Linked DNA regions of Homo sapiens: regions 1 and 2 are each linked to region 3. Evidence: fine-mapped expression QTL. A gene starts in region 3. Each other region holds a variant in brackets. All regions are shown on one strand. Distances are between the middles of the regions. Region 1 overlaps LOC124902526 (a long non-coding RNA gene). Region 2 overlaps STK32C (serine/threonine kinase 32C). Region 3 holds the start of STK32C (serine/threonine kinase 32C).

Region 1 (7,330 bases), 84 kb before region 3:
GCCAGAGTTCTGGCCGGGGACAGTCCCAGAGGAGGCCTGGAAGCCCAGTGAGTGTCTGTCCTCCTCTGTGTGGCCTGGGGCTCCCGCCAACACTAAGCCCTTCCTGGGGCCTCAGGCACCTCAAGGCGCCCCGTTCTCCAGGGTCAGCCAGCCCCTGCCCACTGGTTGCCAGGCTTGCAGTGGAGCCTGCCTGCTGTCCTGCCCACAGGCCTCTGCAGCTGCCCCCTCCAGGGGTGGGGCTGACTTTGGAGGAAAAATGCCAGGCAGCAGGGACCCCCTCGCCACCCTGCTCCAGGTTGGGCTGAGCGGCCATCCTGAGGCTGCCCACTTGCTTGGCTCTTCTTCCTGCCTGCTGGAGAGGCCTGCTGGGCACTGCCCTTTCTGAGCATTGGGGACTGCCAGGGTGAATCAGCATTCAGGCTGGTGGGGCCAGCATGGGGTGGGGCTAATGCACAGGGGGCTGTATGTGGGTGGAGGGATCCAGAAAGAGTGTCCAGGGGAGCACCAGCATTCACCAGGGCCCCACCAGGTGGGCAAAAGCAAGGGCTTCCGAGGTGGGGGTGGGGGTGGGCAGGATCCTCTGCAAGGTGTCTGCGTGCGCCTGGGGCTCCTGGTGACTTCCCACGCCAGCAGGAGGAACAGTTTGGGGTGTGCTGAGGGACCCACCTGTGGACTTGCTGGGCTTTGAGAGGAACCAAGGCTGGGTGGCGGCGGGCAGGACAGGGGAAGAGGGTTCCGGGGCACAGAGGGCCAGACAGATGCACCCAGCAGCTGGCAGCTCTGGCTGGAGAGGGGAAGAGGGCAGTGAGAAGCACGGCTGGCCCATGGTACCTCCTGCCCCTCTGCCCTGCCCGCCTTCCCTCTGCCCTGCCCACCTTCCCTCTGCCCTGCCCGCCTTCCCTCTGCCTCTTCCCCTCTGGCCCGTGCTATTTACTGTGTATTGTTAAGTGAACTTGGAAGCCGTTTTTAAAACCTGCTCTCCACTAGGTAAGGTATAAAAAAGACCATCTGCAGACAGGGAGACCATTTTTGCAACTTAAACGGTGGCTGTTCAGGGCCTCCCCCAGCAGCCCTGCCCCCGCACCTGCTCCCACTTGCTTCCCGCCCCGCTCCAACCTGCTTGTTGAAGAAGAGGCCATGGGAGTTTCCAGAGTCCCCGATTAAAGTGCAGGTGTCCTTGGGGACCTCATCAGCCCAGGTATCCCCTCCTGTCTGACCCTGTATTCGGGGGTTGGGAGGCTGTCCTAGGCTTGCTGCTCTGAGCATCTCCCCAGAGGCCACCCTGCTCATGCCAGTCAGTGAGGTCTGCCCAGTTCTGGGAAGCACCCTGGGTACTGGGGCTGGTGCTGCCCACAGTGAGAGGACCCTGAGCTGCCTGGCTGGGCTGGAGAGGAGCCTCGGGAGTACGCCCCTGGCTGGGGTGAAAAGGCCAAGAGTGGGAAGAGACACCTCCGAGGTCTTTAGACTTTGTCTTCAAGAGACTTGATCCAAACAAAAGGTCCTAAAGCCTTTGGTCCTCTGGCTGTAGGCACAGCCGCAGCAAGGCCTAGGACATGCCCAGCTCGGGACGGCCCAGCCAGTCAGATGGGGTAAGCCAAGGGGACAGGAGAGTGTCCGGAACTTCCACCGGGGCTGGGGGTGGGTGACCAGCAGTTGGCAGGATGGGTGGCCTGAAGGGGTACAGTTGAGGGAGGGACAGGTGGCTGGAGGAGGAAGCAGGGGCTGGCCTCTATGTCCCCTGAGACAGCAGGGGAGGAAGGCAGGAACCCCGCAGGCCACCTCCCCTCAGGGTCTGCCTCCCCTGCGGTCCTTGGAGGAACTCCAGGATTTGTCCTCCCTGGCAGCCTGGCTCACTTGCATCACCAGCTCCATGCCCGCCCCTCGTCTTTCAGGGTCGCTCCCCCAGGTCCGAGCTTAGAGGGCCCTCCTGACTGCTGGACCTGGACCTGCCCAGCACTGTCCTACCGCACTACATCATCACTGAGACTTGGGAAGGGCAGTGGTGAGCAGGTTCTCAGCCTTTGTTGGTCTCTTCCACGAGATGAGGCTTACAGCGGCCTCCCCATGACTGAGGTGCAGCCACAGCCTGGCCTGTGTCCAGCCTGCTCCAGAATCACCTGGTATCCCCCCAACCCCCAACACACCTGGGCTTGCTTGATCTTACTGGAGCTCACCAGGGCCTGGCTGTGTGCAAGTCTCATGCAGCATAGTGAGGTGCTCCTGAGATGCATCGAAGGTGTCTGGTCAAGATGGAGGCCTCGCAGGACACAGCCATGAGTCAGAGACCACAGATTTCTCCAGAGCTGGTGCCCAGAGGCCAAAGGCAGGGATGGGCCTTGAGGCTGGGACCCAGGTCGCCTCATGGCAAGCCTTTTGCCCACAGCAGCTGTGGAAGGCAGGAGACAGGATAAAGCCTTTAATACAGAGGGCCTGCTCTGATTTCAGTAAGCAACCATTCATCACTCAAGAAGCCTGGACAGACTAGGGAGCAGGAGCACGCCAGGCCTCCTCCAAGGTGTCTGGCAGGGAGGCCGGCCTGGGGAACACACTCCTTGTCCCTTGTCGTGTCGTCTGAGGCAGGGGCTCAAGGCAATCTTTGCAGATGCTGAGCCAGGAACCCTCGACCTTCTAGCAGGCCACAGATCCTTTGGGCAGTGTTTGTTTTGTTCTGCTCCAGTCTGGAAGCCCTTGGAGGGCAGTGTGGGTCTACAAGGCCAACTTTGTCTTGTCTGTTCTGGAGCTGTCTCCCTGCCCCTTGGGTTATCAGGATGATATAGGGTCACATCCCCTGAGGCAGTATCTCAAAGGACCGGCTGGGAACAGAACCTGCCAAGACTCCACTCGAGGTGGTGCAGAGAGCTGGGCAGGCACATAAACTCTGAGGCCAAACTGCTAGAGTCCTGCCATGTGACCTTGGGGAGACTGCCACCTCCCTTGTGCCTCAGTGTCCTCATCTGTAAAGTGGGAAATATGATGGTACCTACCGTGTAGCCTCGTACTGAATATTAAATGAGTTAATATTAAATGAGATACTTAGTACAGCACAAGCCCCAGTAAAGCTTCCATGAGTTAGCTGCCATCACCATCATCAACACTTTTGTCATTATCAGCATCACCATCACCACCACAGTCTCCACCATCACCGCTACAGCCATCATCACCATGAGCATTACCATCCCACCTCCCCCATCACTACCACCACCATCACCATCACCATTGTCACCACCGTCACCATCATCACCATCACCATCACCATCATCACCACCATCACCATCATCACCATCACCATCATCACCATTACCACCACCCCCATCACCACTACCATCACCATCACCATTATCACATCACCATCATCACCATCACCATTATCACCACCACCACCTCCACCATCACCATCACCACTACTGCCATCATCATCATGATCACCATCCCACCTCCCCCATCACTACTACCACCATCACCATCACCATCATGACCACCATGACTATCATCAGTATCACCCCACCACCATCACTATCACCATCACCATTGCAACCACCATCACACCACCATCACCATTATCACTGTCACTGCCACCACCATCTCCACTATCATCACCATCACACCACCACCACCATCCCCACCATTGTCACCATCACCACCATGACTATCACCACCACCATCACCACCATCACACCTACCATCACCACTACTATCAGCATCATCACCACCACCGCCATCACCATATCACCATCACCATTATCACCAGCAAAATGATCACCACCACCACCACTCTCATGATACTTGTATAGCTGGGCCCTCAGTGGGATCCTCGGGTACACCTGAGGCCTTGTGCTATGCTCAGGGCCAGGTAGGAGATGCAAACCCTGTGCCCACATGCTCTGTGTGCAATCTGCCCCTGCTGGTATCTGGCTGAGGCCCGTGATGCGGAAGAAGCCAGGCAGGTGAGTGGCTCCCAGGTAGCTGCTCTTGAAGCCTCCTCTGACCCCATAACCTGTGCTCTCCCAC[A/G]TCCTTGGCAGGGGAGCCGAGGCAGCCCCCAGGGCCAGGCTGGCTCTCAGCAGTGGCTGTGAATCCCTTCCAGACTCAGGTTCGAGAGGCCCTGTGGCTGCAGCATCTGGGCAAAGATATTTCTAGGGTGGGGCATCCCATCCCCAGACAACTGCTTTGGTTTCCAAACAGTGGATGTGTGACCCTTCTGTTTCTGAAGGAGCTGGCTGTTTCTCAGCAAGACCCGTGCTGTTCTCCATGACCAGAGAACCAATCCACAACACCCGAACCCAGCCCAGGGCCCCTGGGATCACAGGCAACATAGCAGCCTCGCTTAGCAGGTTGTAAGCTCTCTCCTCCGAAGGCCATTCCCAGGATCTAAAGTCCTCATTTCCTGGCTTGAAGTTAACCCTTGAGGTCCTAATGTTGGAGAGAGGAAAAGCCTCCCCCATGTTGATCCAAACGGCTTGGCCAGACATGGATCTCTCTCAGAAGAACCCACGACCAAGGACGCTGGCACGTTCCTGGTGAGGTTCTCCACGAAGAGGTGCAGTGTGAAGTGGCCTGTCACAGAATAAGAGTCCTAAAGCTTACGTTCCCATAAAAGCCCCTGGCCTGGGAAGCAAACACAGACCGGGAGGCCCCTGCCTGGCCTGGGCAGCTCACACAGACTGGGAAGCACTTAAAAGCTGGAGGCCCCTGGAGCTGCTGGTCCACAGGGAGGTGAAGCTGCACTCCTGCCCTAGGGTCTTCCAGGGTGCCTGCTGTGGAGGTTGCTGGAGACGAGCCCACCACTCTAGGGTCCGGGCACCTGGAACACAGCAGGCACTCGGGCGCTTCCAGTCCAGGAGAGGCACCTCCCAGACGGCAGTCTTCTCTGATTGCTTTCTGGAGTTTGAGTGCGGAGGAGGACGAGGTGAGGGAGGCAGCCGAGCTGTGTCCTGATGCATCTTCCAGAGGCACTCTGGGTGGACGCTGGGCCCCTTGGCCTTGCCAGGCTGGGGTCTCCCTTCACAGAGCCCATGCTTGTGGGCCCCACAGCCAGACTAGCACCTTTCTGTCAACACAGCCATGGACACCATGAGAAACTCCCACAGTTAAACACTGCCCAGAGCCCCAGGCCACCTCCTGGGGTGTCATTTTGTAAGGTACCTCACCAACCTCATGAGAAGTCTTTGCTGTAGGGACTTATTTATTTTAAATGAATCAGGGTCTTGCTCTGTCGTGCAGGCTGGAGTGCAGTGGCACAATCATGGCTCACTGCAGCCTCAAAAACTCCTGGGATTAAGCAATCCTCCCACCTCAGCCTCCTGAGTATCTGGTGGTGTTAGCCACCACATCTGGCAGATTTTTTACTTTTAGTAGAGACGGAATCTCGCCATGTTGCCTAGGCTGGTGTAGAACTCCTGGACTCGAGTGATCCTCCCACTTCAGCCTTCCAAAGTGCTAGGATTATAGGCTTGAGCCACCATGCCCTGCTTGTGGGTTTATTTTTTAATCTGACAGTTTTGCCAAACCTCATACTAGAAGGCGGGGCTTCTGTTTGCTAAAAACACCATGATATTTCATCATTAAACCAGTTGTTATCCACATCTGGGATACTTGGAGAAAACCCTCTCAGGGTATATTCACATTTCACGCCCAGCTTGCAAAGGCACCTTCATGCCTTCTGCTCCCCGACCCTGACCTCCCACTCACCTAACGAGCAGGAGCTAGCCTGTGTCCAGAGCGGGGCGGGCGGTGGGGAGGGGGTAGGTAGGAAAGGTCCTGTGCTGCTCCCTCCAGGCAGAGACTCCTAGGGGAGACAGTGTGGTGGCCTGGGGCCCAGGGGCCTCCCTGCAAACTCTTTCCCCTCAAACCCTCCTCCTGGTGGGTGTGGCTATGCATTTGTCCCGACCCCTCCACATGCAGAACCTGGCATGAGCCCTGGGGCGTGGGGACAGACACGGAGTCCAGGTGACCTCAGGGTTGTCCTGAGCTGAGGTGTAGACCCCAGGCAGACCCACAGACAGAGTGGGGCTCTCCGAGGTGTGGTTGGAGGGCCGAGAGCAGAGCCCTGTGCTGGATCTAGGGAGGCACTGGTGTGTCAGCAGGTGCAGCAGCGTGCAGCTGGGCTGGGCTGCGGGGCTCCTGTCCTTGCCCTCCTCCAGTGGCCAGGAGAGGCCAGGTGTTCGTGCTGTCCCCCACAGGATGCCTGAGGGAGGAGGTGCAGGAAGGAGCAGGATCCCCTGGGCTAGGGCTGGAGGGCGCTGGAGGCTGTCGCCTGCGTTCTCCCAGGTGCACAGAAATGAACACCTTCTGGCTGAGAAAGGCTGACTGGGGGGCCTCTGGGCAGCCTGGGGCCTGAGGGGAGCAGAGCTTGCTGGGAGGGCCTCATTCCTTCCCGGGTGGAGGGAGCAGCCAGGCAGCACCCTGACAGCTCCAGCCCTGGATGGAGAGCAGCCCCCACACTGGGCTCCAGCCCTGAGGGGTCTCCCCAGCCTCCTGACCCCACGGAGGAACTGGTGAGTGTAGTGGGTGCAGGGCCAGCTTCCAACAGTGACAAGGGGGACCTGAGCCCAGCTGCCCCCAAGGCCTGGCCAGCACTTGGGGAAGTCCGGCAGGGTGTCCTTGAGGTCACGTGAACTCCGCTTCTGGCCTCACGCCCCAAGGCCCACGCCGGGTTCTGCGCTGTGTGTCCTGAGACCCGGACCGAGCGCATGGGGCCTGAACGGCACCTTCCCTGGCCGGCTGCCCACGGACGTTTGTGGGCTTGGCCCTCCTGTTTTGGGCTCACTTGGGGTGCAGGACTCAGGGATCCACACAGGAGATGAGCCAGGCTTCCTTGAGGGAGCCAGGAGGGCCGGAGTTTTGGCCGATTGCTTTCTCAGCCTGAGACGTTGCCCTGTAATGCTAACCCTGTTGCCATGGCCTGGCGTGGGACCTCCAGGGCCGGGCAGCTGCTTCCCTCAATGAGAGCCCCCGAGCCCCTGCAGGCGGCTCCGTGGTGCGCCCCCTCACCCCCGCATGAGCCCCCCGCCCCCGCATGAGCCCCCCGCCCCCGTATGAGCCCCCCGCCCCCGCATGAGCCCCCCCGCCCCCCGCATGAGCCCCCGCCCCCGCATGAGCCCCCCGCCCCCCGCATGAGCCCCCCGCCCCCCGCATGAGCCCCCCGCCCCCGCATGAGCCCCCCCGCCCCCGCATGAGCCCCCCGCCCCCGCATGAACCCCCCGCCCCCGCATGAGCCCCCCGCCCCCGCATGAGCCCCCCGCCCCCGCATGAACCCCCCGCCCCCGCATGAGCCCCCCGCCCCCGCATGAGCCCCCCGCCCCCGCATGAGCCCCCCGCCCGCGCACGAATCCCC
Region 2 (7,330 bases), 52 kb after region 3:
CCACCAGGACCCTCCTCCAACACTGGGGATGACAATTCAGCATGAGATTTGGGTGGGGACATAGAGCCAAACCATATCAGGGAGTTACATCTTACATGAGATTTGGGTGGGAACACAGAGCCAAACCATGTCAGGAAGTTACATCTTACCCTGGATGGAAGGAGGGTCCTGCAGGGCCCATTTTCCCACCTGCCCCAGGGCTTGGAGGCTGGGATGGGGAAGGTGCACATGAGGGTGAGAATGGTTGGCTATGGCCCTGTTCATGCCCCCAGCTGTGCCCCAGTACCCGGTGCAGCAGCCTCCCAAGCCACAGCCCTGTCCATGCCCCCAGCTGTGCCCCCAGTACCCGGTGCAGCAGCCTCCCAAGCTATAGCCCTGTTCATGTGTTGTCGAGTGAATGCTTTTAGTTGGAGATGATATTTTCCTACCATTTGCCATTAGCATTTCTAGGATAAAATTCCTTCCTGATGAACTGGTCATCCTCAACCCCCGTCTGCCCACGGGCGGAGACCTTCATGTTGTGGAAGAGGCCATGCCCTGGAGGCCCTCGCAGCCCCTCCTCGGCACTGTGGTGTTTGGGGATCCTCATCCGGCCCTGAGGTGTGCGACCGTGTGGCCTGGGCCCGCTCAGGAGGGGCAGTGGGAATACGTGTGAGTCCAGAAGCAGCTCCTTTCCAGGGCCTGCTGGCCCTCACAGCGTCAGCGTGGACAGCAGTCGGTACCCAGGGCGTTAGGTGCCCAGAGGACCGGCTGTGAGCCCGCCGCCCTGTTCCTGTTCGGTGGGCTGGGAGGAATTCCAGAGGAAGGCCTGCGCGCTGGCCCAGCCACCCGGGAGAGCGCATTGGACCTGTCCTTCCAGGAGAACGCGCTGGCCTAGGCACCCAGGAGAGCGCACTGGACCCGTCCTGAGGATGACACGGGCTCCACCTGTCCTTTGCAAAGAGCCCTGGAAGGGCCCCGTGGGGGGTGATGGGGGGCGGCCAGGGCCACGCTTTCCATTTTAGGAAAAGGAGGCTGTGAGGAACTCTTCGAGTGCTGTTGATGGTTTGGGGAAAGGTGCTTTCCACTCTACCAAGTGCTAATGTGTGTGAAAATCAGACTGGAGCTCATGCCACCTTGGAGCAAAGCTCCCGCTGTGCCCGGCAGACACCTGCCCAGCCTTGGCAGCTGGGCCCTCTTGCCTGTCCACTGCAGATCCAGGAGAGGCAGCTGCCCCCCTCTCTAGGTCAGGTCAGGGCCGATGTCCTGGGGCTGGGACACTTGCTGTTGCTCCCGGGGAGGTCCTGGGGGGCCACTCAGCCGGCATTCATCAGCACATGTGTGTGATGGGGTGACAAGGACAGGGACAGTGAGGGCACTTGGGACATGGAGCCCTTCGTCCTGACCGATTTCCCGGGGCAGGTGGAGTCCGTGCACTGAGGAGAGCCTTGCTGGTCTTTGCAGCCCATGTCAGGGCCTGTGGCTTTCAGGGGCCTGCTGGGCCGCGGCCTCCTTTGGGCCTCAGGCAGGCTGCACAGTGGAGGCTCGAGAGCCCTGAGTCCCACCTGCAGGTGTAGAGGAGCCCCCAGCCCAGGGCAGCTGATGGGTCCCCTGGGGGTGTTTGGTTCTGGGGCCCCCTCCTAGTGTCTGCAGAGGGGCCTGGTGGAGGGTGGGGGTTGGGGGGAGGATTGTGGGGGTGTCAGGCCTGGGATTGCCATCATTGGCTCACAGTGGGCGCCCCTGGGGACAGAGGCAGAGAGAGGGCAGGGCAGGGGGCCGGCAGCAGGGGGTGGGCACCAGATGGGGTGGACAGGGGTGATGTGGCTTTCTGTGCCAGAACAGGCAGCATCCTGCCACCCACTCCTTCGCAGCTCCGCCCCGCCCATCTCTTTGGCTGGGGGGTGTGATGCTCCCTCCCTGCTCTGAGTCACTCCTCCTCCAGCTCTGCCCCTCTCCCTGGGAGCTCTCAGGCACCCTGAATGACCACAGCCCGCTGGCCTAGGGGCCTGTGGCTGCCAGGAGCCACCTCTTCCTAGGAGCCCCTCCGTCTCCCTCTGTGGGAGACAGTGGCACGGGTGTGGGAGGGCTGTGCAGGACCCCAGGGGCTGCAGGTGGGAGGATGGAAGGACAGACACGTGGACAGGGCTTTTTCCAGCCTTGACCCACCCACACACCTACCCATCTCGTGCTGGCCTCTGAACACACTGACCTCTGGGGTCTTTCAGGGCATGTCCTGTATCCACAGGCCTCACCCCCCTGAGGACCCAGCCTCATGGGCAGCCCCCAGCTGGTCCCACAGCGAGCCCTGAGTGTGGCCCTTGGTGCAGCCACACCCCAGGACACAGGGCCCTGCCCATCCATCTGCTCCTGGCCAGGGCTCCTTCCTGGGCTGTTCTGCTTTGATCCCCAGCCCTGGGATCCCACTGGGCTCGCTCCCCCTCATCCAGTGCTGCTGCTGCTGTGGCCAGCGTCCCCCCCACTGGCTAGGCACACCTGCCTCAGGGTTCAGGACTCAGGAGGAACCCCAAGCCCCACCCCGAGTCAGGGCTGTCTCCATTGCAGCTCCGGGGTCCCCAAGCATCTGTGCCTCTGGGCGGGCAGCCCCAGGAGCAGGCTTCTCAGCTGCTGCAGGGCCAGGCGGCCTTGGAGTCCTCCAGGTCTGCCCCTGTGGGTGGTCCTGGGGTGCTGGGCCCTGCGCAGTGAGAGGCAGGGGTGGGTGGGGCCGGGCCTTGGACAGTAGGACCCCTCTAGGCAGCCTGGGGGGAGGTGCTGCTGCCCACCTCTCCAGCGGTTTGGGGAGCTGGAGGAGCCCAGGTCCCTGCTGCCGTGGGCGACTCCTGCGGTCTCAGGCACTGCGGTCTCAGGCCTGAGCCTCTGCCACCCGGAGATACTGTATTGATCAGGCGGTTGCCCTAATCACTCATTTATGGCAGATCCCCGTGTTGTCTGAGGATGTCGATATTAAACACCGGAACATGATTCCAGACAATTTCAGACCAGACAGGACCAGGATCCACAGTGCTGGCCTGGGAAGCTGCCACTGAGCCTGTTTTATGGGTGGAAGCTTTCACTGCAATTAAGGTGGGGGAGGGAGATGGCAAGAATGCTGCCGCCAACAGGGTCCTGCTGGAGGTGTAGGCACCAGGACCCCGGGCTCTGGGTGTGTACCTGGGCAGGAGAAGCCACAATTGTTTCGGAGCCCAGGGGCCCCACAGGACTCAGCTGTGGGCTGCTGCCACATCCTGGCTGTGTCTGTTTCACAGAAAAGACAGGGTGAGGGCATCGCTGCCAAGATGGAGCCTGGGGCACAGGGTATGTTCCCAGAGTAAGACCCCAGTTGGCTCCCCGAGGCTGGAAGGGTGGTGGTGCCAGCTGAGGACAGAGCCCTGTCCCGGAGCTGCCCAGGGATGCCGGGAAGCCGCCAAGCCACCCGGGCGAGTCCAAGCTGGACACCAGGGCTCCAGGGTGTGCAGAGGCTGCAGGCTGCTGGTCATGGGGGTCTGCCCCTGGGTGAGGGGACGGTGGAGAAGGAGAAGGTGGCCAGCTGGGCCCTCGGAGATGCGTGGGCAGCGCACGTAATGCTGGGCCATGGTGCTGGCACCCAGGCATGACCTCGAGGCTCCAGGCCCCCTCTGGACTGAGGAGTCCAGGGTCAGAGGCCGGCACCCACACCCTCATCCCCTCTCCTGATCTCTGACCTTCCTGCCCTGGGGTTTCAACACATCCTCAGTGGTGCAGGAAACCGCGTGGGGCTCAGCAAGGGTTGAGGGACCTGCTTCCTGCAGGGCCCCCTGCTCCTCTCCTGGGTGCTGCTGTGGCTGGACGCTTCTGCTCTATGTTCTCCGCTGTAACTCGGGAGCCTCCTCACCCCTGCCCAGCGGCTCTCATGCCTGTCTCTAGCCCCCACCTGTCTTGTCCCCATCTGCGTCAACCCTGCCCGTCAGCGTGGTGGGTCTTTGTTCCCGCAGGCCATGGCAAGAGGGTGAGGGGTCTGTGAGGTGATGTCTGGTGACTCCTGTGGTTCCTGTTGACCTAGCGGGCCAGGGCACCTGAGGAGTGGGAGTGGGGGGCACCCATTGCCAGGAGGAGCTATCGGGCCGGTTCCAACTCTTCCACCTGGCCCGGTATTTCCTAAGTCAGGAGCCCCGTGTGGGCCAGACATCCCCAGAGGCTGCACAAGCTCTGCGGGGCCTGCGTCTCGGAGTCCTGGGGGATGATTTTCCTCATCATAAGCACTTCCCAGGTCATAGGAGACGAGACGGCATTTAATCAACTTCTGCGTGTGTTTCAACCACGTGTGACATTTGATCTTTGTGACAGCTCTCACAGTAGTGCCCACTTCTGCTGTGCAATCCTCCCATTGGTGAACGGGCTGGTTCTGCCTGAGGACACTTGGACGTGGGGGCCTCTTC[C/T]GGATGAGTGGGTGGGGTGGGCTGTGAAGGGAAGCGTCCCAGGCCTGGGACACGCCTGCAGCTGTGGGCAGCTCATCCACCACGTGGCAGCTCTGAAACTGTCCAGCACCCACTTCCCGGGCCTCCAAAGACATCAAGAGGGGACCTGGGGTGTCAGGAGCAGAGCTGATTCTCCAGCTCTTGAGACAGCCTTCGCGTGGGGTGCACGCATTGTGCCGGGGTGACATAGTGCTGATTCCCGGCGCCCTGCGGCAGGCTTATTTTACTCTCCTGGGCTCCCAGGTCTGGGGGCAGCCTTCGTGGAGGGTGCACGCATTGTGCCGGGGTGACATAGTGCTGATTCCCGGCGCCCTGCGGCAGGCTTATTTTACTCTCCTGGGCTCCCAGGTCTGGGGGCAGCCTTCGTGGAGGGTGCACGCATTGTGCCGGGGTGACATAGTGCTGACTCCCGGCACCCTGCGGCAGGCTTATTTTACTCTCCTGGGCTCCCAGGTCTGGGGGCAGCCTTCGTGGAGGGTGCACGCATTGTGCCGGGGTGACATAGTGCTGATTCCCGGCGCCCTGCGGCAGGCTTATTTTACTCTCCTCTCTTCTTTTGCTGTCCTCATTGGGAGTATTTTCTTACCAGTTTTGATACAAGCCCTGGCTTATGAAAAGGCTATTTTTTTTTGTTGTTTTTTTCTCCCCTGATGGAGTTTCGCCCTTTTTGCCCAGGCTGGAGTGCAGAGGCGCGATCTTGGCTCACTGCAACCTCTGCCTCCCGGGTTCATGCCGTTCTCCTGCCTCAGCCTCCTGAGTAGCTGGGATTACAGGCGCCCGCCACTATGCCTGGCTAATTTTTTGTATTTTTAGTAGAGACGGGGTTTCACCATGTTGGCAAGGATGGTCTCGATCTCCTGACCTCGTGATCCACCTGCCTCGGCCTCCCTAAGTGCTGGGATTACAGGCATGAGCCACCGCGCCCTGCCTGAAAAGACTAGGTTTTAACCTGAAACTCCACTGAGGCTTTGGGCTTTCCTAACATGGTTTGTTATTGGAAGTGCTCTTTCTATGCCCATGTGGGCCAGCCACTCAGCCGAGTGCTAGACGCAGAGGCGGGTCCCTGCAGGGCGGGAGGAAGGTTCTAGCCAGGCACACGGGAGGGCAGATCATTTTTTATTCTTGGGGAAAAGTGTTGAAATGTTACCTAACGCTTTTGCCTTGGACTTGGTGGTAGCCATGCCAGAGGTGACGTCTTGGCCATCTCTCGCCTCGAGCCGGTGTTTGGCCTTAGATGTGCTGTGGAGGGGCGGCTCCCTCAGCTCCCTCAGCTCCGCAGGCTCCCTGGACTCCCTCTAGCTCTCTCGACTCCCTCCAGCTCCCTCAGCTCCCTCCAGCTCCCTCGGCTCCCTCCAGCTCCCTCGGCTCCCTCCAGCTCCCTCCAGCTCCCTCGACTCCCTCCAGCTCCCTCGACTCCCTCCAGCTCCCTCCGGCTCCCTCAGCTCCCTCAGCTCCCTCGACTCCCTCCAGCTCCCTCGACTCCCTCCAGCTCCCTCCAGTTCCCTCGACTCCCTCCAGCTCCCTCGACTCCCTCCAGCTCCCTCCAGCTCCCTCGACTCCCTCCAGCTACCTCGGCTCCCCAGGCTCCCTTGACTCTCTCCAGCTCCCTCGGCTCCCTCCAGCTCCCTCTGCTCCCTCCAGCTTCCTTTTGCCCGGTTCCAGTTCCCAGGCCCGGCAGGACCTTCCAGGCAGACATGTGGTTGGGCCACCTGTGCTGGCAACCCAGAAACCAGAAACAATTGCGTTGGAGTGCTGCTTTCCGGAAAAGCTCCTTGCCTTTTCTTTGGTTATTTTGTTGCTCCTGGTAAGCCTGGAGATGGTGGCAAAACTCTCTGAGAACAGGGAAATGCTGCGTTAGGGAGGACGAACGTCCCTGCTGTCTGGGTGCTGGGCTTAGCGCTGACAAGTCTCAAGAGAACCTATCTCTGATTGTGGGGCCTGGTTCAGGGACTGAGACCCCAGCTAGCAGCCCTTGGGGAGGACCTGGAGAGGCTGCCGGACACCGTGGGAGGTGTGGGGGCTGGTGTTGGTTTCTCAACCCACCTGTGTGGATGCAGAATCCAGAGTGACCTGGGAGGAGGCGGCCCCACGCTCGGGTCACTTAGCGGGATTCAGATGGCGACTCTCATAGGACCTGCTCTCAGTTGCCAACACCAAAAAAATAAAAGCCTTCCTTGAAGAATAAATATTTTAAAGACCCTGGATTCGAATGCATTTGCTGTACTGGGAAGACTGTGTCTGTGGCCCTTTGGCCAAGCTGCACAATGAGGGCAGGTGCTGGTGGGCCCGGAGCTCCGAGCCGCTCCGTCCATCCCACGCCCGCCGTTGGGTGCACACAAGTACAGAGGTGCTTCCTTCAGGCAGATGTGTCCTGGTTCCTGGGAAGGAGCCCCCTAGCTGTGAGATGGGATTGTGGGGAGCTGCGTCTGCTTCTCCTTTTACCTGCGTCTTAATTTGAGAGGTGGACAGCACGGGTGAAGGATGCGCTGACAGCATCACTGCACGGCGTAAATCACGCCGAGGAGCGTGACAGACCAGTCTTGGTCCCCGTAATCACGACCCATGCCCACACTTCTTTGCCAAATGTCCCCTTCAGAAATGTCTCCCGACGGCCTTGTAGGATGGCAGCCCCCTCCCCCTTTCCTGCTTTAGCCCCCTCCCTGGCACCTGGTGCCACACTGTGGGCTTGTTGAGTGTTTCCCCCACACTGAAGAGTTCACTCCAGGAGGTTGTCTCCCTCCTTCCTGGGTCTGGAATGGGCCTGGCCAGCGGTTCATGTGGTGACCTCTGACCTTGGCTGGTTAGCAGGCCGCCATGTCCCTAGCGGGTTCTTGGCCAGAGACTTCTGATCAGACAGTGCCAAAGTCCAGCCCTGAGGGGCCCAGCAGGATGAGATGGGG
Region 3 (7,330 bases):
TGTCACCATAGCAACCAAGTGTCCCCACACGTGGGCTCCAAGGCCCTGGCCTTCCAAGAATCCTCAGTCCCAGGCCCCGCCAGGGCTGAATCTGAGGGCGCCACGGCCATCTGTCTTCCATTTCCCAGGAGGGAGGCTGTCCGTGGATTCTCCACATAGGTGGACACCAGCATCGGAGTCCCATGGGAGCCCATTTCCTGTTTTGGGGGTCAGTTCTGAGATGTGTTTTCCAGCAGGAAACAGCACACACGAATCGTGTGATCTGAGGAGATTTAATAAAAGGACTCTTAACAAAGGCGTGGGCAGAGCATGTGTTAATTTCATAATGATGACAGAAGATGAAGCACACATCTCGGTGTGACTGAGCTGTGTGCCAATTATGTGGCAACGGAGGACCCATGTCCAAGGCATGTCCCTCAGGAGGCGTGGCTTTATGGACGAATTATGAACAAATGCACATGAAGCCTGGTGTCAGGGACTGCACCTTGTCCCCCAAACCACCCCCAGCCCTTCAGCACATGCCACGGCCACTCACTTGCTGTCCTGCAGCATGGACCCTCCTGTCCTCCCGCACAAGCCGGTTTCTACCTTAGGGCCAGCTCCTGCTGTTGGAACCCGGACACCTGGCCTCCCTTGGGCTACTCGTTCATGCTCCGGCCTCAGCATCAAGGTCACCTGCTCAGAGACTCATGCTGGACTACCCAAGCTAAAGTGGTCCCACGATCATGCACGTGCTGCCCAGCCATGTGCCTTCCTGTGTGCTCCTGCGTGCTAGACGTCAGTGCACTGAATGCATTTATCTGTCACATTGTCACTTGGTCTCCTGTCATTGGAAGGGGCAGACACCATCGCTGCCCTAATGAAGTTGACGTTCCCGGGCAGCATGGGCACACAGGGGAACTCAGGAATTCTCTACTGGCCTCACTGCCCCTTCCCATCCACAGCTGACTCTGTCCCAGCCTCAGTCCCTCCCAGCATCCCCCTAGAACTTCAGAGCTACCTCCCATGAGGCACCAGGGGTTGGCATCCTCTTGGGGACAGCAGTTCCTGACCCCTCCTGTCTCATGCCTACACTGTGCACCTCTTAACGCTCAGTCTTGTGTTTGCCTGGACCCTGAGCCGTGGCTGGACAGTACAAGAGTTGCACCTGGACAGTACAAGAGTTGTGCCCTGAGCCCACAGGCCCCTCCAGGGCTGATCTGCACTGGCCAAATCTTAGGACCCGGCATTCTTTTGGGAGCTGCTGTTTCCCTACAGATCCTTCCTGTTTCCTGACTGAGAGGCAGGTGCCTGGCTTGGTGTTTGAGGCTCACAGCAAGGGTGAGGTTGGAGGGTCTCCTAGTTAAGTGTGCAGATGTCCCCATGAACCCCTCTGCCCCCCTGCACTCTTGTCTTCTGCAGGACTTGGTATCCCTAGGTCAAGAGCCCCTTTGGACCCTCAGACCAGAGGACTGTCCATCCCCAACTGCCCGGGCCGGGGAGGCGTCCTGGGCTCTGGCTGTATTCACATTCTCCCGCCTTTTGGGGTCCTGGTTACCTGCAGGTCCTCAGCCTCTCCAATCTTCAGAGTCAGCTTTCTACCTGCTGTCTGAAGTCTATTAACATGTCTTCCCTTCTCCTGTTCCCTCTTAGGTGGTGGTGGGGACGTTATATCTTTTATTCCTTTTCTGCCACTTTTAGGGGTCAGAGGGAGAGGAGGAGAGGCGATGATGTAAGTTCAGAGGCTGCGTGTTTTGGGAGGAGCCCTGGGGAGTCTGATGTGTGCACCGGGTACGCAGGGTTCCAGGCACTGCCCTGCCTTGGTACCTCCCCTTCCAAACGCTCCTTCACCACTCCTGCTGGGATGGGCACCGAGGGCTTCCTCTGAGGCAGGTGCTGAACCCACTGCCTTCTGCGTGCCTGCTGGAGAATGGCAACTTTGAGGGAGAGCAGGGAACAGAGCTTCGCAGCTGCAAGGGCTGAAAACTCGGCTCTGTGCACTGGAAGTTAGAGACCGATGCGTTTGTGCTAGCCAGGCAGGGAGAGCTGCGGTGGCTGGTTGGTCAGGTAACCTAGGTTATGCTGCCATAAAAATACCCTCTAAATCTCAGTAGTGAAATGCATGCCATGTGTCCTAAGCGGGTGCATGTCCAGGTGGGTGCATGTCCTAGGCGGGTGCATGTCCAGGCGGGTGCATGTCCAGGCGGGTGCATGTCCTAGGTAGATGGGCATGGTTCCATTCCTTATAGTCCCCAAGGGATGGGGGCTCCTGTTGGCCCAGAAGCCACACAGACTTCCCGTGCTCACATTTCATGCATCAGGCGGTTAGGGCGGGCGGCCACACTGAATGTCAAAGGCCGTGGGGAGGCAGGGCTCACAGTGGCTGAATGACAGGGTAGACAGTTGTGTGCGGTGGGAGGGACGGGAGCGGGAGACACTGGCCTTGGAGCCATGTTGGGGATCCGCTCATCGTCCGGGCGGGCAGCAGGAAATCCCATCTAGGATTTCACCGAGGAGGAAGAGACCCCGTCTTTGTGTCCTGGTTACAGGGCAGAACTTAAGGAGGTAAAGGCTTCCTAAAGTCAAACAGCCCGGTAGCAAAAACTGATTCTTCAGTGACAAGCGCCAGGGGCAGGCGGCGAGGCTCCATGCAGAGCCGCGCCTTCTCCAGGGCACTCCAAGGCGCCCAGCACTTTCCGCGCAAGGTCGCGCCTGGCCCTGCGCAGGGGCAGAGGTGCCCGGAGGTCAAGCCGCGCCCCAGGCCTCCGAAATACGCCGAGTGCCGAGGCCCCTGTCGCATCTGGACAAGGGGACCCTGGGCGACTCGGGCACGCGGTCTCAGGCCGGACGGGGGTCGCGAGGATGGCACGGGGGTGCCCGAGAGCGCGGGCGCACGTGCTCAGGGCTTAGCGCCCACCCCAGGCGCCCGCGTGTGCGCGCGCGCAGCCAGGCCCGCCCTGCCCCACCCCACCCTCTGGCGCAGCGCTTGGACTCAGCCTGCCGCCTCCTGACCGTGAGCCGGGCTCTGCCCGGCAGATTCCCGCCGCCCGCATCCCGGGCCTGCAGCCCGGCCTCACCCTGCGCAAAGCAGAAGGCTGGAGTTTAGGGCTCCCCGCACTGGGCGGCGGAAGCCCGCGCGCCGGCTGTTTTCACGAAGAAGGCAGGGGAGGGAGGCCCCCGGAGACCGCGAGAAGGTCCCGCCGCCGTGCCGGGCACAGCAGTCCCCGTGCCAGGGACGCCGACCTCCGGGGCCCCAGGATACCCGTGGGGACGCTCCCTGCCTCCCTCGCTCTCGTACCCGCCGTCTAGTCTGAGCCGTGGTCCCCGTGTCCCGGCGAACCACAGCCCCCATCCCTAGACTGGTGGCGGCCACCCACTCCCTAGCGACACTCCAGGCACTAGCCCCGCCCCTGCCCCGCCCCCGGCTCGGCCCCGCCCCTACCCTTCCCGAAGCTCCGCACCTGCCACGCCCCGGCGCTCAGCTCCGCCTCGACCCCTTCCAGGAGCTCCGCCCCGCCCCCGCCCCTTCCAGAAGCCCCGCCCCTGCCCCGCCCCCAGCGCTCGCAATCTACGGGGCGGGTTCCACCGCCCAGAAGAGCGCACGGCGGGCGCTGCCGGCCCCGAGCGCTCCCGCTACCACTGCCGCTCCCGGCCCTGCCGGCCGGCCATGCCCCGAGTTCCGGCTGCCGCGCGCACCCAGACCCGGCGATGAGGAGTGGCGCCGAGCGCAGGGGCAGCAGCGCCGCGGCGTCCCCGGGCTCGCCGCCCCCCGGCCGCGCGCGCCCCGCCGGCTCCGACGCGCCCTCGGCCCTGCCGCCGCCCGCTGCTGGCCAGCCCCGGGCCCGGGACTCGGGCGATGTCCGCTCGCAGCCGCGCCCCCTGTTTCAGTGGAGCAAGTGGAAGAAGAGGATGGGCTCGTCCATGTCGGCGGCCACCGCGCGGAGGCCGGTGTTTGACGACAAGGAGGACGGTGAGTGCGGGCACGGGGACGACGTGGGGGCCGCGCGCTATTGCAGGGGCGGGCGCGGCTGGGCGGCTTTTTCCCGCAGGGGTTCCCCCGGTGTCCGGGACGGCTTCCCGGGGCGCCCCGGCTTCCGGAGAAGCTCGCGCCGGGTGGCTGCGGCCCCACGCGAGTTCTGGGCGCCCGCCCGCGTCCTCCGTTTCTAGTGGCGGCGCCGCAGGAGGAGCAGGCTGGGCCCGGGCCCTCGGGGCGAGGGTCCCCCGCGGCTGTGGCGTCTCCGGGCTTGCGCGCGCCTCCGCCCACCGCCCGTGGCAGCCCTGCTTTCCGCTTTCCGTGATCCGCTCGGGCCCACGTGCGGGCTCGTTTGTACTTTGCAGTTAGAGAGGCGCTCACCTGTGCCGCCCGAGTGCGAGTGAGGCTCCTGCCCCACAGGTGGCGGGGCCCGGCCGCTCAGAGGCTCAGTCTCCTTGGTGACCGCGCGGTGTCCATCCTCTGCTCACCCATGTGCGCTGGAGGCAGGGCCAGGCCGTTGTGCAAAGACCTGCCCTGCCAGGAACGAGTGCGCTGCTGAGTCCTGTAGATAAAGCCGCCAACCCCGGGGACTGGTGTCTCCTGAGTGACCGTGCAGCCGTGGGCGCCATAGAAAGCAGAGAAGGCAGGTGAGGTGACATGGGACAGGCCTGCAGGGACACCTCCCGGGGTGCCAGGGGGCCCCGGGGACCCCCGAATTATCACCTGCAGGGAGATGTGGTGCCGCGTCTGCCTGTGGGCACTGTAATACAGTCACATGCAGACATACAGCTCTTTTCTACAGGTAACATGCAAATCATTTAAAATCGTACATTGATGACACATTTCATGTTTTTTGACATTTTCTTAAAATACTTGAAATGTGCATTTTTCATTTATAGATAGCGTGCAGAGGTATGATGGATCCTTCAAAATTTTAGAGCCCAGCGCTCAGGAGCCAGGCTATTTACTTGCGATAAATAATTTAAGCATTATGGGAAATTACAGTAATACGACCTCAGGCCGGCGTTGGTGAGTGTGGGGCCGTGCACCGCCGTTCCTCCGGGAGACGGCACCGGGGATTCATGGTGTGCTGCCTAGAAGGAGGGCTGAAGGCCCAGCCACACCAGGCCCCACACGCTCCAGGGTGGCCCGTCACTGTGTCCTGAACTTCGGGACAGCAGAACTCACGATGGTGAATGTTTGAGAAATGTTTTTGTTTTTAACATAAATATTCAAAGTAAAGAAAGCCCAGAGTGAACTAGGAGCTGATCAGGAGGCAGATTTGCCTCTCGTTTCTGGCTGCGGGTTGAGAGAACGTCTGAGAAACGCATCTGGTTTAGCACTTGCTGGTGTCAGCCAAGAGCTGGCTGCTCTTCTGGGTCTCGGCACCGTGCTCTCCGGGGGTGGGAGTGGAGACAGTGGTGTGGCACTGGGCTGCCTTCAGCTTTGTAGGGTAGACTTCCCTGTGTGTTCACAGTGTGTTATGTCACAGAATTCAAGGATCACTAGAAAGGCAAAAAGAGCAAGCACAGAGTCTGTCTGTGGGGCTCACGGTCTGACTTGGGAATTCTTTCACATCCCCAGCATCACCGTATTTGCCTGTAGTAGGACGGCAGAGATTCGGCTGACGGTGTCCCACGGATGCTGCTGGCTCCGTATGGCTTGGTATGCAGCCACATCCCCAAACTGAGCACCCGCCGGGACTCAGCTGGGCTTTGTGTGGTGAAATCAGGAGGGCAAGACTAGGCCCTGGCCCGAATAGCAGAGGACATCTCTGGGCGGTGACCGCTTCCCTCCGCTTCTTCCTGTCACTGGCAGGGCACAGACAACTTGGGAGTCATAGCACAGGGTTTGCAGAAGAATGTTCTGCACCTCTGAGTGTGGATGCCGGGGACTCGTGTTGGTGGAAGGGATTCAGTTTGGAAGGAGAAAGGAGAGTCTTTTAGGAAGGGACTGTTGCCCCTGAGTCCCACCCCTTTCAGGTTGGTGCAGTCATTTGCCTGGTACTTTCGTGGCCCCGTGGCAGCACTGGCTTAAGGAGGCCCTGGTGCTGTGTTGGTGTCTCGAGTTTACTGAATCTGCACGGTTGCTATGGCAATGCTAGACCTTCCGATGAATTTTTTAGATTAAAACACCTAATTAATATATCAAATTTAGTATGCAGAGAAAAGGAAAAAAGAAATTAAGAGTGCTGTTTAACAAAGTGCCAGGTAAATTTCAACTGATAGGCATAGTTGCGACATATAAGACTAAATGTCCTCTGTTCCTTTTAATCCTTGTGGACTCCAGAACCATTTTCCTAATTTGGCAGATATTTGGTGCATGTACAGAATTCTCTGCACGTCTTTGTCATGCCAGAACTGAGGGTCTCCAGTTTTCCTTCCCCTCAGCCCCTCACATGCTCCCATTCTATCCCTTCTCTGACTTCGGTGAAAAATTCATTTTTGGGGTTGAACTTGGTTAGGGGGTCTTTCTGCTGCTGCTCTGCACCAGAGCTGCATGGCGTTGGGCGAGCCCCTTCATTCCTCTCTGTCTTGGTGTCCTGGTGATACCAAGTGAACCTGAGAGGAGGCTCCGGTACCTTCCCGCTAAGCAGCTCTGCAACCTGGGGGGCGCTCGCCCGTCTCGGGGTCACAGCATTGAGTCTCCAGCCTGACGTGGCATTAGCCCGCCAGCAGGAAGTAGCTCCTCCCTGAGGGGCTTTGCCTTCATCTGGGGAAGGCTGGAGTGGACAGGCCCTTGCAGGCTGTGGACGGCCCGCCCTGGGCGCCGGGCCGGGCAGGCAGTGAGGCAGGACCAGGGGCCACCAGACTCCTCAAGTCATCTCTTAAAATTAGAAACACCTTTGTTTTTTCCTAATTATGAAAGCATTAAAATGTATGCATTTAAAAACATTCTATACTTTATGCCACGGTATCTGTAACTTCAGCATTGGGATCACGGTGTCACCTCCCAGCCTTTTTCTGGAAATACAGTCCCAGGTACAGCCGTGGAGAAACACTCTCTCTTTGTTAGCAGAAGTGGGATCCTGCTCTGCATGCCAATTTGCCGTAAGGTGCTTGTTGATTCAGCGATATGTTGCCAGCCTCTTCCAGACCTGAGGCATCATTTGTTGGCTGAATTTACAACAGTTCTCAGCCCCAGGCTGTGGACCCGAGTCATTCACTGGGCACTCTTAAAAAATGCAGATGCTCAAGCCCCACACCCGTGAACTGTGGGTGAACTGGGGGGGTTTGGTGGGTTGGGGGTGGGGCTCAGGGGCTCAGGCTTTTTTTTTAAGCCCCTCTTGAGTTTTACCAGCAGTCGAGGCTGAGATTCCCGACTCTGCAGTGCTCCCCTGAGCAGCTGTGACTTTCTCTGCTTACTTAGTTTCCTGTC

The links.
Region 1: its variant is fine-mapped to the expression of STK32C in fibroblasts (GENCORD, PIP 0.92).
Region 2: its variant is fine-mapped to the expression of STK32C in whole blood (TOPMed, PIP above 0.99).

What each region holds. Positions count from the first base shown.
Region 1 is chr10:132,388,529-132,395,858 of GRCh38, reverse strand. It overlaps LOC124902526 (a long non-coding RNA gene), which reads left to right. Exons shown (of 2, transcript XR_007062342.1): 1 at 1-1,198; 2 at 1,529-3,044. Among named protein-coding and RNA genes, the nearest start is that of PWWP2B, 5.0 kb to the left of the region's middle. RefSeq lists enhancers at 1-217, 218-741, 5,652-6,331. The variant A/G (reference allele first, on the strand shown) is at 4,009.
Region 2 is chr10:132,252,057-132,259,386 of GRCh38, reverse strand. All of the region lies in intron 1 of STK32C (serine/threonine kinase 32C), which reads left to right. Among named protein-coding and RNA genes, the nearest start is that of STK32C, 52 kb to the left of the region's middle. RefSeq lists enhancers at 4,133-4,632, 4,633-5,134. The variant C/T (reference allele first, on the strand shown) is at 4,392.
Region 3 is chr10:132,304,191-132,311,520 of GRCh38, reverse strand. STK32C (serine/threonine kinase 32C) reads left to right here and starts at 3,571. Exons shown (of 12, transcript NM_173575.4): 1 at 3,571-3,949. The coding sequence starts at 3,688. RefSeq lists enhancers at 1-116, 1,758-2,300, 2,301-2,845 and a silencer at 3,098-3,747.